Homo sapiens: one gene and its partners. The protein of the gene in region 2 purifies or fractionates together with the protein of the main gene of each other region. This does not show direct contact. Each region holds a gene or a part of one and is shown on either strand. Other genes may lie near its edges.

Region 1 (2,995 bases), on a different chromosome or scaffold from region 2:
TCCTCTCACAAATGAAATGGAGCCTCAACTGTTTCCCCAGATGACTGAACAGCTTCCAGATTGGCTTAATGTGGGAGCTCAACACATTCTCTCTCACAAAGGAATTCGAGCTGGCTGCAAGTACAGCTTCTAGAACAGATGTTCTTAACTTGTGGTCGACAGATCCCTGATGCAAAATTTTAAATGTGCATGACAGTTTTCTAGAGAGTATTCAGCTTTCTTTGTATTCTCAAAGTGATCCATGTCCCAAAAAGTTAAGAACCACTGATCTTAATTAAAGAGGGTTTGAAAGCAAACTGACTAGATTGACGCTCTGGCCATGGGTTGTGCAAAGAAAGCTTTTTATTTGAGAACACCTAGATACTTTTGGAAATGTTCTTGTTGGATCACAAACAACCTAATTGACAGTCTATCGCCAACATCCACAAACACAGCAAACAGTCCAGTCCTGCAGACCACACAGGGTACATCTAGAGGGTTCTACTTGCATCACCCACACTTCCACTCCTGTGAAACAACTGTCTTGGGCATGAGAAGGGCCAGGATAGGCCAGGTGAATGGCAGGCTGCCCAACAACCCCAATCCCAAACCAACCTCCCAGGCCATGGGCCCAAGTCCCTGCAGGAAGATGCTAATAGGTACAACAGGTAGAACATGTAGACACAAACATCTAGTTTATTTTTTCTGACTGTAACCAAAGTCAGCAAAAGAAACAACAAAACTTCAGTGCCCTAGAAATCCTCCTGGATTCAATGACAACACATCAATGGCCGGGCACAGGGTTGGATTCCTTTTATGAAATCACCTTATAATCTCTCATCATCCCAGGACAGTGCCTTTTGGGACTGCATGAATCTTTAATAGCTACACCACATTTTCTCATCCTTTAAGTTATGACAGACAGGTTATCTCTCTCCAAGAGCATCAGGTTAGATGCTCTTTCACTCTTACAAACTGTCAGGTGGAGGGAGAATCACGACATCATTCATAAATAACTGTGGAGTCTGGGATGCTGGCTGAAGGCATCTCCAGGAAGGACTGGAGGGCGATTTTGCTAAAGGGCTGCTCACTGCTCATTTCACTGCATGCCGCTTTTCTCACTTTGGTTGGGAGTTTGAAGGACCATGTAATCACAGAGATTAGAGCTCCCTGTGAAATCAATCACTGCCTTTAGATCTCCACAAAGACCTGTTCTCCAATAGCACATGCGTTTCTCTGTGAGCTGTATTCGCATCAGCGCCGGAGCCTCAGAAAGAATGCGTGTTTACACTCTGTACTCTCCAATGGGTAATATTTATCATAGAAATCTAATACATATTCTTCAGTCTTGAATCCAAACTTCTGGTACAGTAGCATAGCGGGGTTGCTTGCTGAGACGTGAAGGGTTACGTCCTTGCCCATGCAGGTCTGCCAAAAGAGTGGAAAAATACAAGATAAAAATGGAAAGGCCTGAGGGAAAATGAGTAGGTAAAGAAACGCTTTTAAGTGTAGGCAGTTAGTTATGGAAACCGGAGAAATCAGAGACTGAGGCTGAGACATTGCAACACCTAGCAACAGCTGGAAACAGAATGACATTTTGCTGCTGATCAAAACATTCACAAGACCAAGGAAACTGATAGTATTCTGGGTGTTTTTTATTTTTCTTTGAAGCAAAGGGTCAATGGGGATATTGTTATTGTCAGCTTTATTATTTACAACTCAATTACCTTTAAATATGTCAAACATTTCAATACCTAACACTATGATAACCTTGAATAAATACAAAACAAAATAAGTTTTGCTTTTTAAAACTAGATGTTATCTTGTACCTCCCCAAAACCTGTAAAAATTCCTTTACTAGGCCTGCTAAATTACATGCACAAACATGAAATATTAAGAATGTAATTATAAAACCTGAGGCCCTTGTATAGACCTTCTGAATCCCAAAGTCCACCTTCTGTCTCTCTAAAACTGACAGAATTAGCTTCTTAGAACTGAGATTTCTACATTCAGCTTTGACCTAATCTTAGGGGAAAAGAGTAACAATCATTCTATCAACACAAGGCAAGTCCTTAGATTCTTTAATCAGCTACACAGAGTAAGGTGTCCCAAAAGTCATATCATTTAAGAACTTACTTTTTAATAAAGAAGGCACTGAAATACTGAAGTTGATAGAGTCCTTGAGATTTATAACCCATGGTTCTCTCAGGCCTCTAAGAACTCCTCTGTTGACAGTCATCTGATAGCTACCTGCTTTCTCTGCTTAACTTCCATGTGTATCCATAGGCATTTTTAGGACAAGAGAGCACTTACCAGTATGCCAGGGACAAGAGCACTTTGTGAGTTTTTAAAGCAAATTTTGTGGGGTCATATTGGTGTTTGCTAGATTGCAAATATACGTGATCTCACCGTGGCCATCATTGAGTGCCAGCGACTGTGCGCCACCTATGTTTGGGCCCTCAGGGGTATGGTCTGGCTGGAGGGGAAGGTGCCCACCTGCAAAGATGAACCACTCCTCCAGTGGCCTCGCAAACACTCAGCAGGGACTGACTCTGTACCAGCCCTCATGTTGGGCACCAAGGACACACACACACAAGGACAGAGTACTATTCGTGCCCTGTCTTCAGGCCCTTACCAGTGACAGATACGGCAGCAAATCCTCTAAGTGCTCTCCTAGGTTAAAAAGACGCATACTGAGAGATCAACTCTTGGTTGGGATGGGGCAGAGAAAGGGAGTGTTGTAGAAATAACTGAGAAGCTCTCAAGAGAAAACCACCACCCAAAGTAGCACATATTAATTACTCAGTGAGTGATTTACATAATCACTGCCTAAGGAGAGAAGGAAAGCAATTTCTAGGAAAATGGTTCCAAGGTTCCTGCCAACATTTGGGAATTATTAAGCAAGTTTCATTAAAAATTGGAGAAACAACTTTTATCATCTTCATCTCCTCTTTAAAAGGAATCTTGCCTGCATAAACATATAATCCTCCATACCAAATGGTTTCTAAGTAAAAGT
Region 2 (3,658 bases):
TCAAAAAAAAGAAAAAGAAGCAAATTATCTGGCTTCTTTGAGCCTGTCTCCTTCATTCGTTCAGCCTGTATTTATGTTAAGTGCTGACTACATGCCAGGATAGATATTGTCCTAAGATATATTGATATGGTCCCCGCCCTCATGGAGCATATAGTCTAATGAGGAAAACAGACACAAAAGTAAATCACCAAATGTATAATTTTAATAGTGGTATATTCTGACTCATGACAGTGAGATGGCTCTTGTCATGGTCATGACTTATTTCTATTATGAGTGACACTCAGATGACCCTAATGACATTACATACATTTTTGTATTTTTTTAATCACTGAAGCATAGGTGTATAATAAAATAAACTCAATGGCATAATTTTATTGCTACAGAACTGTAATGATTTTTGCAGTGAAGTATTAATACACTCGGTTGATTGCTAAAGTGAGTTATCCTGGTGTAAATTTTTATGTTCACATCCCTTTCCGATTTATCTTCTGGGGCTCTTAATGTTTTTCTTCCTAATGTTCTACAGTATCTTTTTTATTCTTATCTCAAGTGGTCATTCTGCCACTCAAAAACTGGTCTAAATGACAACTTCTAGCATTTTTGCCTGTTCATTCATAAGGACTATTTACTTGCACTTTTGGAAATACGGGGCAAAGACCATTGTGAAATGTACTATATTATTAGTAGAGATGTCATGTACATTTCAAATGTGCTGTATTTAAGGATGCTTCTCTGCATAGCTGACAGTTTTTACTTATTCAATACAAGTCACAAGTCACTGTGCTGAAGGCCATGAATAAAACAGTGAATAAACACCCAGAGCTCTGCCCTTGTAAACTTAAACCTCGTGATTGAACTCTTCAGGAATTCCAATAGACCATAAGTTTGAATGCAAGAACTGTGTTAAGAGTACCTTCGAATCCCTAGTACCTCAAACCAATTGTGGAATATAGTTGGTTCTGAGGGAAATCTGCATTACTCTATTTTTTAATTTTTCTTTTTACCGCTCCTTGTGGAGCAGGGCTAACTCACAAGCAGTGTGCCCAAAGTTGGTCTGTATTACTCTGTTTTCTTAAAAAGAAAAGGTTCTAGAGCTGAGTACTTACCAGTGAGAAAATTCCGCAGTCGTCCAAACTGTACTTCATATTGCTGGGGTTCTGCCTGGCAAGGGGCTGCAGACACTATGTTGGCACAACCAGATTCTGATTGCACTAAAGAGGAGAAGATACACAAGTCAGGGCGGGAAACAGAGAGACGATTATTAACCCAGTACGTGGCAGGATGGGTGAAGGAGGGTGTTGTGCACACACGCACAGCAACTGACATTTCAGCAGGTTTCCAAAGCATGCTGGGTCCTGGTTAAACATGACAGACTGATGACACTTGTTTCTCTCCCCTCCCTCCTGAAGCCCAATAAAATGAAGGCCAGGGAAGGAAAGGCATAAAGCACAGGATAAGGTGAATGAGAGAGGACAGGTACATCAATCCATGAGATTCATCAGGAAATGTTTGATCCTATGTTCTGACATTTCACAGGTGCCTTGGTGTGGGTTCATTGTCAATCACTGTGCTGGGCACTTAGTGGGCCCTTTCAATCTGGAAATTCATGTCTTCTAGTTCTGTGAAGTTTTCTGGAATCATTTTGATAATTCCCTATCTTCCAAGACTCCTACAATTTCAAGGTCGGATATCCTGAACCAATCCTTTAATTTTTTTCTCCTATTACTCCATTTCTTTGTCTTTTTGCTCTACTTTCTGAAAGCCTTCCTCACCCTTCAGCCCTTCTACTATTTCCCCCTACATTACTTATAATACCTAATGAGTTTTTATTTTTTACTATCATGTATCTAATTGGTAACTTTTTTCATTCTCAACATTCTCTTTTCCCCTAAACACGCTATGCTTTTTGAATCTTAAGTATTTAAAACAAGGTATTTTTGAAGTTTTCTTCTGTTTCTTTCCATCTGCCCTTCTTATGAGATATGTTTCTTCTAGGGTTCAATGGCCCCTGGCTGTCTTACGGTGAGGCACTCTGGGTGGTGAGGCTCATCCTCCAGGGTGACCAGGGTGAGCAATGTCCCAACATCACTGTCTTTTCGTCTTTCTTCTTGGGCAAGTTGGACTCACCAGGGAAGGATTGTTTACTTGCCTTCCTGGAGCATGTGTGCCTGGCTGCAGTATTCCGGGCATATGAATTGGTGCAGGGGAAACAAGGCTGGAGTCTCAATATTCAGTATGTAAACACACACTTAATCTCCAATCTGTGAGTTTATGCTTTCTAAAAACAAAAAACAAAAACCATTCTCCTCCTGTTTACAAGAGGAGTGGGGAACACCGGGGAAAGAAGGTGGCTAAAAACCAAGGGAAGCCACCTTTAACCGCGTCCTGAATGAAACATGAATGCATTTTGTCAATGGAATATGGATGGAGAAATGGTGATGAATGTGGCAGGACTGAGGGCGCCATAACAGGAAATACGTAGAAAGGGAAACACAGGTGAGAGGAAAGCCAACCTACTCCAGGAGAAGGAAGAGACAGTCAGAAGAGAGGACCTGCTGCAAGCCTGCATGCAAGGGAGGGACTCCTCCTCCTTCTTCTTGCCCCCCGCTTAGTTACTCTGTCACTAAGTCCTACAGATTCCTAAAATATATCCTCTCCTCTCCACTCCCATTACCACTTCCTCAACTGAGGCTGTCCTCACTTCTCACTGGACTGCGTCTTTTAACTAGTTTCCTCGATTCTAATCTGGGCTGCCTTATCAATACTGCCACCAGACTGAGTTTTCTAAAATTCACATTTGAAAACCTGGATACCCTCCTCCAATTTGTTCCCTGGTAAACATCTAATGGTTCCTTTGCAACTCAGCTCACTCTTTCAACTATTTAGTGACCCCCAACTATATGTCAGGAATCACAAGGCCTTTTGGGGATCCTTCCTTGGCTTGCCAGCCTAATTTGGATGATCTTTTCTGCTACCACTGAACCTCCCCCTCACAGAACTTACTACCTCATGCTCTTCTACAATCACTGACTTACCTGCCTCACTTCCCAATTAGAACACTTAGCTTCTCAGAGCTAGGGTCAAATCGTAGCTATCTCTAGAACTTTTCAGCACTTGGCCTATAGCAGATGTTCACTAAATGTCTGCTGAAAAAAGAATTCTTCAGATTACTCAATTAATGGAAAAATCTAGGACAAAATCTTCTGATAATCATATTTCATGTTTCTCACTTTTCCTGGTGGTTTTCCAGCAATAACACTTTCTCCTAATAAGCTATTCTATTGAAACTAAGACAACTTAGACGAGCAAAGTTCTGGAAGTCTGTTTAATATTGTTCATTCCTACTTTCTATCAACAACAGCAAGAATTACTGCTCTCTGGTTCCAAAGGATGCAGGGCAGCAGATTTTTTAAATGGCTAGGATGGCATGTTCAGAAGGAATTACTCTACAATGGGACAGAGGCCTTGTAAATGGACTCCCCTATTCAAACAATAAGGCACTTAGTATTCTATACCAAGGCCATCATCTGGCCCTGTTTTGGTCAAGGGTATCTCTGAGGAGTTTGAAGGCAAGGAATAATGGGTGGATCCAACCCTGAAATACGTGATGGCAGGCTGCTGACTGGGCTTCTGTTAGTGTTTCAGAGGAAGTCAGGAA
Region 3 (3,658 bases), on a different chromosome or scaffold from region 2:
GGAGGGAAATAGTTATGAGTGCTCACTTCATCTTTCATGAGAGGGATTTAAATGGTCAAAAAATTGAAATTTGTTTTGAAAATGACTCGAAGAGCTCAGTGTTTTTCATGATCTTTTTTTCTTTAAAAACCACTTTATTGAGGTATGATTGATGTACAAAAAGCCAGACATATTTAATGTGTACAACTCAGTGAGTTTAGAGATAAGCATACACTTGTGAAATCACCACAATCAATGCTGTAAAACTATCCATCACCTCCAAAAGTTTCCCCCTGCTTTATTTATCTATCCATTCATTCATTCATTCATTCATTTTTTTTGTAGTAAGAACACAACATAAGTTCTGTCTTCTTAGCAAATGTTTATACAATACAGTATTGTTAACTAGAAGTACTATTACCATACAGATGTCTGGGACTTACTTATCTTGCATAACTGAACTTCATACAGTGAATCACTTTATGTGGCCCAGAAGTTTTTCCTGAAAAGGAAACTTTTGTTTTGGCTGCATTGTAAAATTACAGGTTACAGTATATAGTTTTCTTTTTGCCACTCCAGGATTGTAATTTTTAAAGCTCAATTTGGAGTTGGAGGAGATGATGTCTCTTCCTCTCTAACATTCTGTGAGAGCACTTTTGTCTGGCCGGGGTGATGAGGGAAGGGGTCAAGTTTAATATGAACCTTAAAGAATCAGCAGCCTGTGACCCACAATTTTGTCTAGTTAAGATTTGATAATTGTATCAATAAAATCTACAATAAGGAATAATTATACTAATACTTATTTTTTAATGGAGGGCAAAAATAATTTAAATTATTAAACATTAAGGAAGAGGTAGAGGAACTAAGAAAAATCACTGGATTTCACAGCCAACAGGAAGAGCCAACAAAGTTGGAATCTATTTGCTAAAGTTTCAGTAGCAATATACTTGAGTGATTTAATTTCTGTGTGTGAAGTTCTGGGAAATTACATATGGCACAATAAGGTGCATATATTATGCATGTATATGTACATATTTTTAAGCAAGGATCTTTACATAAAACCAAGTACACTGTACTTAAGGGAATTTTTTTTCAGGGGTATTTTTTTCTTTTCAGTTCTCTTTTAGTCATTGTCTTTAGAACCTTACTGCCTAGGGGAGCATGTATGCCTTACTCTGGGGTTTTCTTTGCTTCTGTTTTGATTTTTCCCTGTTTTCTGTTTCTCTCCATCTATTCTTACCTACTGTTTTTTTACACACTTATATTTTTCAGGCCTATGTTGTAAAAAGAGTTTTAAGTACTCTAAGTTTTTTTGGAGTAATAAGAGTTTGAATACGAGCAGACTTTCAAACAAGGTAAAACTGATGGTGACTGAATAGTTACTAAAGGAAATGTATAGATATTGTGTTTATGTAGGAAATTTATCTTGAAATTTTAATGGTGTGCAGAAATATGCCATATATTATATATTGCCATTTCATTTGTTACTTTGACACTTGTGGTTCATATCATTAAAAATTATTCTCAGCCTGACAGAGAGAAGTTTAATTTCTTAAACATCCTTTCTGCTTTACCAGATCAAACTCAGCCTTTTAGTAGAGTAATATCAATAATAGTAATGCTGTAATTGTGGACATCTGCATTTCAGTCAAGTATGTTAAATAAAGCATAAATATATTAGTAAAATTTAAAGTAATCAAAATAACTAAAAACAATATTTGAAGATTCTAATACATAATCTAGCTAAGATTTTGTCATGGTATGTATTAAATTCTTTCTCTGGCATAATTGTATAGATGGGGATTTGTTTTTGTTTTTTATTTCTCTAATACATTTAAGATTTTAAAACATACCAAAATTTATATTTAGGGAGAAATAAGGTGACTTATAATTTTTATTTTTAAATTGTTATCTGTCAAAAAGCCAAATATTGGAAAAAATTAATAACTATCTCTATTTTTATAGATCCACTCAGCAGGGGATTTCACATTTTCTTAACCAGGGCCCTCAGTAAGAAGTACATTTTATATTGTGACTTAGTGCACACATAGGAATAAATACATCTAGCCGAAATCAACATTTCATAAGACAGTAAACTTGCTATGTTGCTTGTATTACTTTTTCTATTTATTTTTTTCTATTTTATTTCGTTGTTTTTAAGTGCTTTTCATGACCCACCAAATTGATTTTATCACACATAGCTTGGAAACTGCTATCCTAGGACATTTTTACTCTAAGAAAACTAAATGTAACTATCTGTTTAATATTTCATCTTCTCTCTCCTGCTTTTCTGGTTCCCAGCAATGCTGTGTAAGATTACGAAAATGAAGTACTTCCCAATGTGAGTTAGTAAATACTACCTGTAATTCAGAGAAAGATAGCATTTAGTCACTGAACAAAAAGATATAGCATATCTTTTGAGAAAGCATTTATCTCTGTTGTGCATATTAGAAATATGAGAATGTATTTCTCATGTAATGTTGTTCATTCTAGTAATTCAAGATAACTTTTGCCTTGTGAAAACTTAGAACAGAGAAAGGGAGGTTGTGGTAGTATTCAGACTTGAATACATGAGTGCGGGATTATCTATTTCAAGAACAGTTGCTGAGGAGGTTCAGAAAACTCAAAATAGAGGTCTGCTGCATCTATCCAGGATAACACTGATTCACCTCTCCCTGTAAGACAGTAAAACTATAAATATCTTAAAATCACTTAGTAAAGTTACCCAAGAGAAACATTGAAAAACCTTTATTTAAAACATTTAGGAGTGTTCTCATGCTTTCCTGACCCTTAGAAATTAATAATTCAAATGTGGAAATACTATATTAATAATTCAATGCATATTAGTATTTTCTCTACTAAGTATCTTTACAGCTCTCTCTCTGTAAATGAAATCTTAGAGTATTTTAAGAGACAGGGTCTTGTTCTGTTGCCCAGGCTGGAGTGCAGCGGCGCCATCAGAGCTTACTGCAGCCTCTAACTCCTGGGCTCAAGCAACCCTTCTGCCTCAGCCATCTGAATAGCTAGGACTACAGAGCAGGCACCACCGCATCCAAGTAATTCTTTAAAAATTTTTTCTAGAGATGGGATCTTGTTATTTTGCCCAGGCTGGTCTCAAACTCCTGGCCTCAAGTGTTCCGACTACCTCAACTGCCCAAAGCACTGGGATTACAGGCCTGAGCCACTGCCCCTGGTCCTAAATTAATTCATCTTTAGGTTTCCAATGAACATTATGAATACTGTATGTATTATAATTCTCGAATGGAGTATTTTATTGTATATACTTATCTTCTCATCCATGAAGACAGCGAATGTTAATCTCATTAAAGCTGAGATCCAGCACTTATTAGTTATGTAATTAGGAGCAAGTTGACATTCCTTGCATTTTAATTTCCTCATTTGTAATATGAGTATGATGTAGTAACTCGTGAGATAACGAACGTAAAGTGTTTCTTTACATAGTGAACCTAAAATATTAATAATAAAGTTTCACCAAGAATCACAGAAATAGGAATGAAACCCAGCCTTTTATCTGTATACTGCCACGTGACTTCTTAGGAATTAGGCTCAATTGTCTTACTATATTGAGATGAATTATATACCTAGTATAGTATAACATTTCTGTTTTTCCCATTGCTTTCTCCTCTGTGTTTTAAGTGCTCTAACACTACGTTATAGA

What was found.
Region 1: the proteins of TAF5L (region 2) and KAT14 purify together in Homo sapiens (affinity purification with mass spectrometry, with the first as the bait; one large-scale study listed by BioGRID). This does not show direct contact.
Region 3: the proteins of TAF5L (region 2) and RAP2A purify together in Homo sapiens (co-immunoprecipitation; one large-scale study listed by IntAct). This does not show direct contact.

Annotation. Positions count from the first base shown.
Region 1 is NC_000020.11:18,185,698-18,188,692, reverse strand, and holds the end of KAT14 (cysteine-rich protein 2-binding protein), read right to left. Parts: intron 1,408-2,995; coding exon 1,234-1,407; 3' UTR 658-1,233; downstream 1-657. UniProt on the Homo sapiens protein: Component of the ATAC complex, a complex with histone acetyltransferase activity on histones H3 and H4. May function as a scaffold for the ATAC complex to promote ATAC complex stability. Has also weak histone acetyltransferase activity toward histone H4.
Region 2 is NC_000001.11:229,609,000-229,612,657, forward strand, and holds part of TAF5L (TAF5-like RNA polymerase II p300/CBP-associated factor-associated factor 65 kDa subunit 5L), read right to left. Parts: intron 1,212-3,658; coding exon 1,107-1,211; intron 1-1,106. UniProt on the Homo sapiens protein: Functions as a component of the PCAF complex. The PCAF complex is capable of efficiently acetylating histones in a nucleosomal context. The PCAF complex could be considered as the human version of the yeast SAGA complex.
Region 3 is NC_000013.11:97,440,517-97,444,174, forward strand, and holds part of RAP2A (ras-related protein Rap-2a), read left to right. Parts: intron 1-3,658. UniProt on the Homo sapiens protein: Small GTP-binding protein which cycles between a GDP-bound inactive and a GTP-bound active form. In its active form interacts with and regulates several effectors including MAP4K4, MINK1 and TNIK.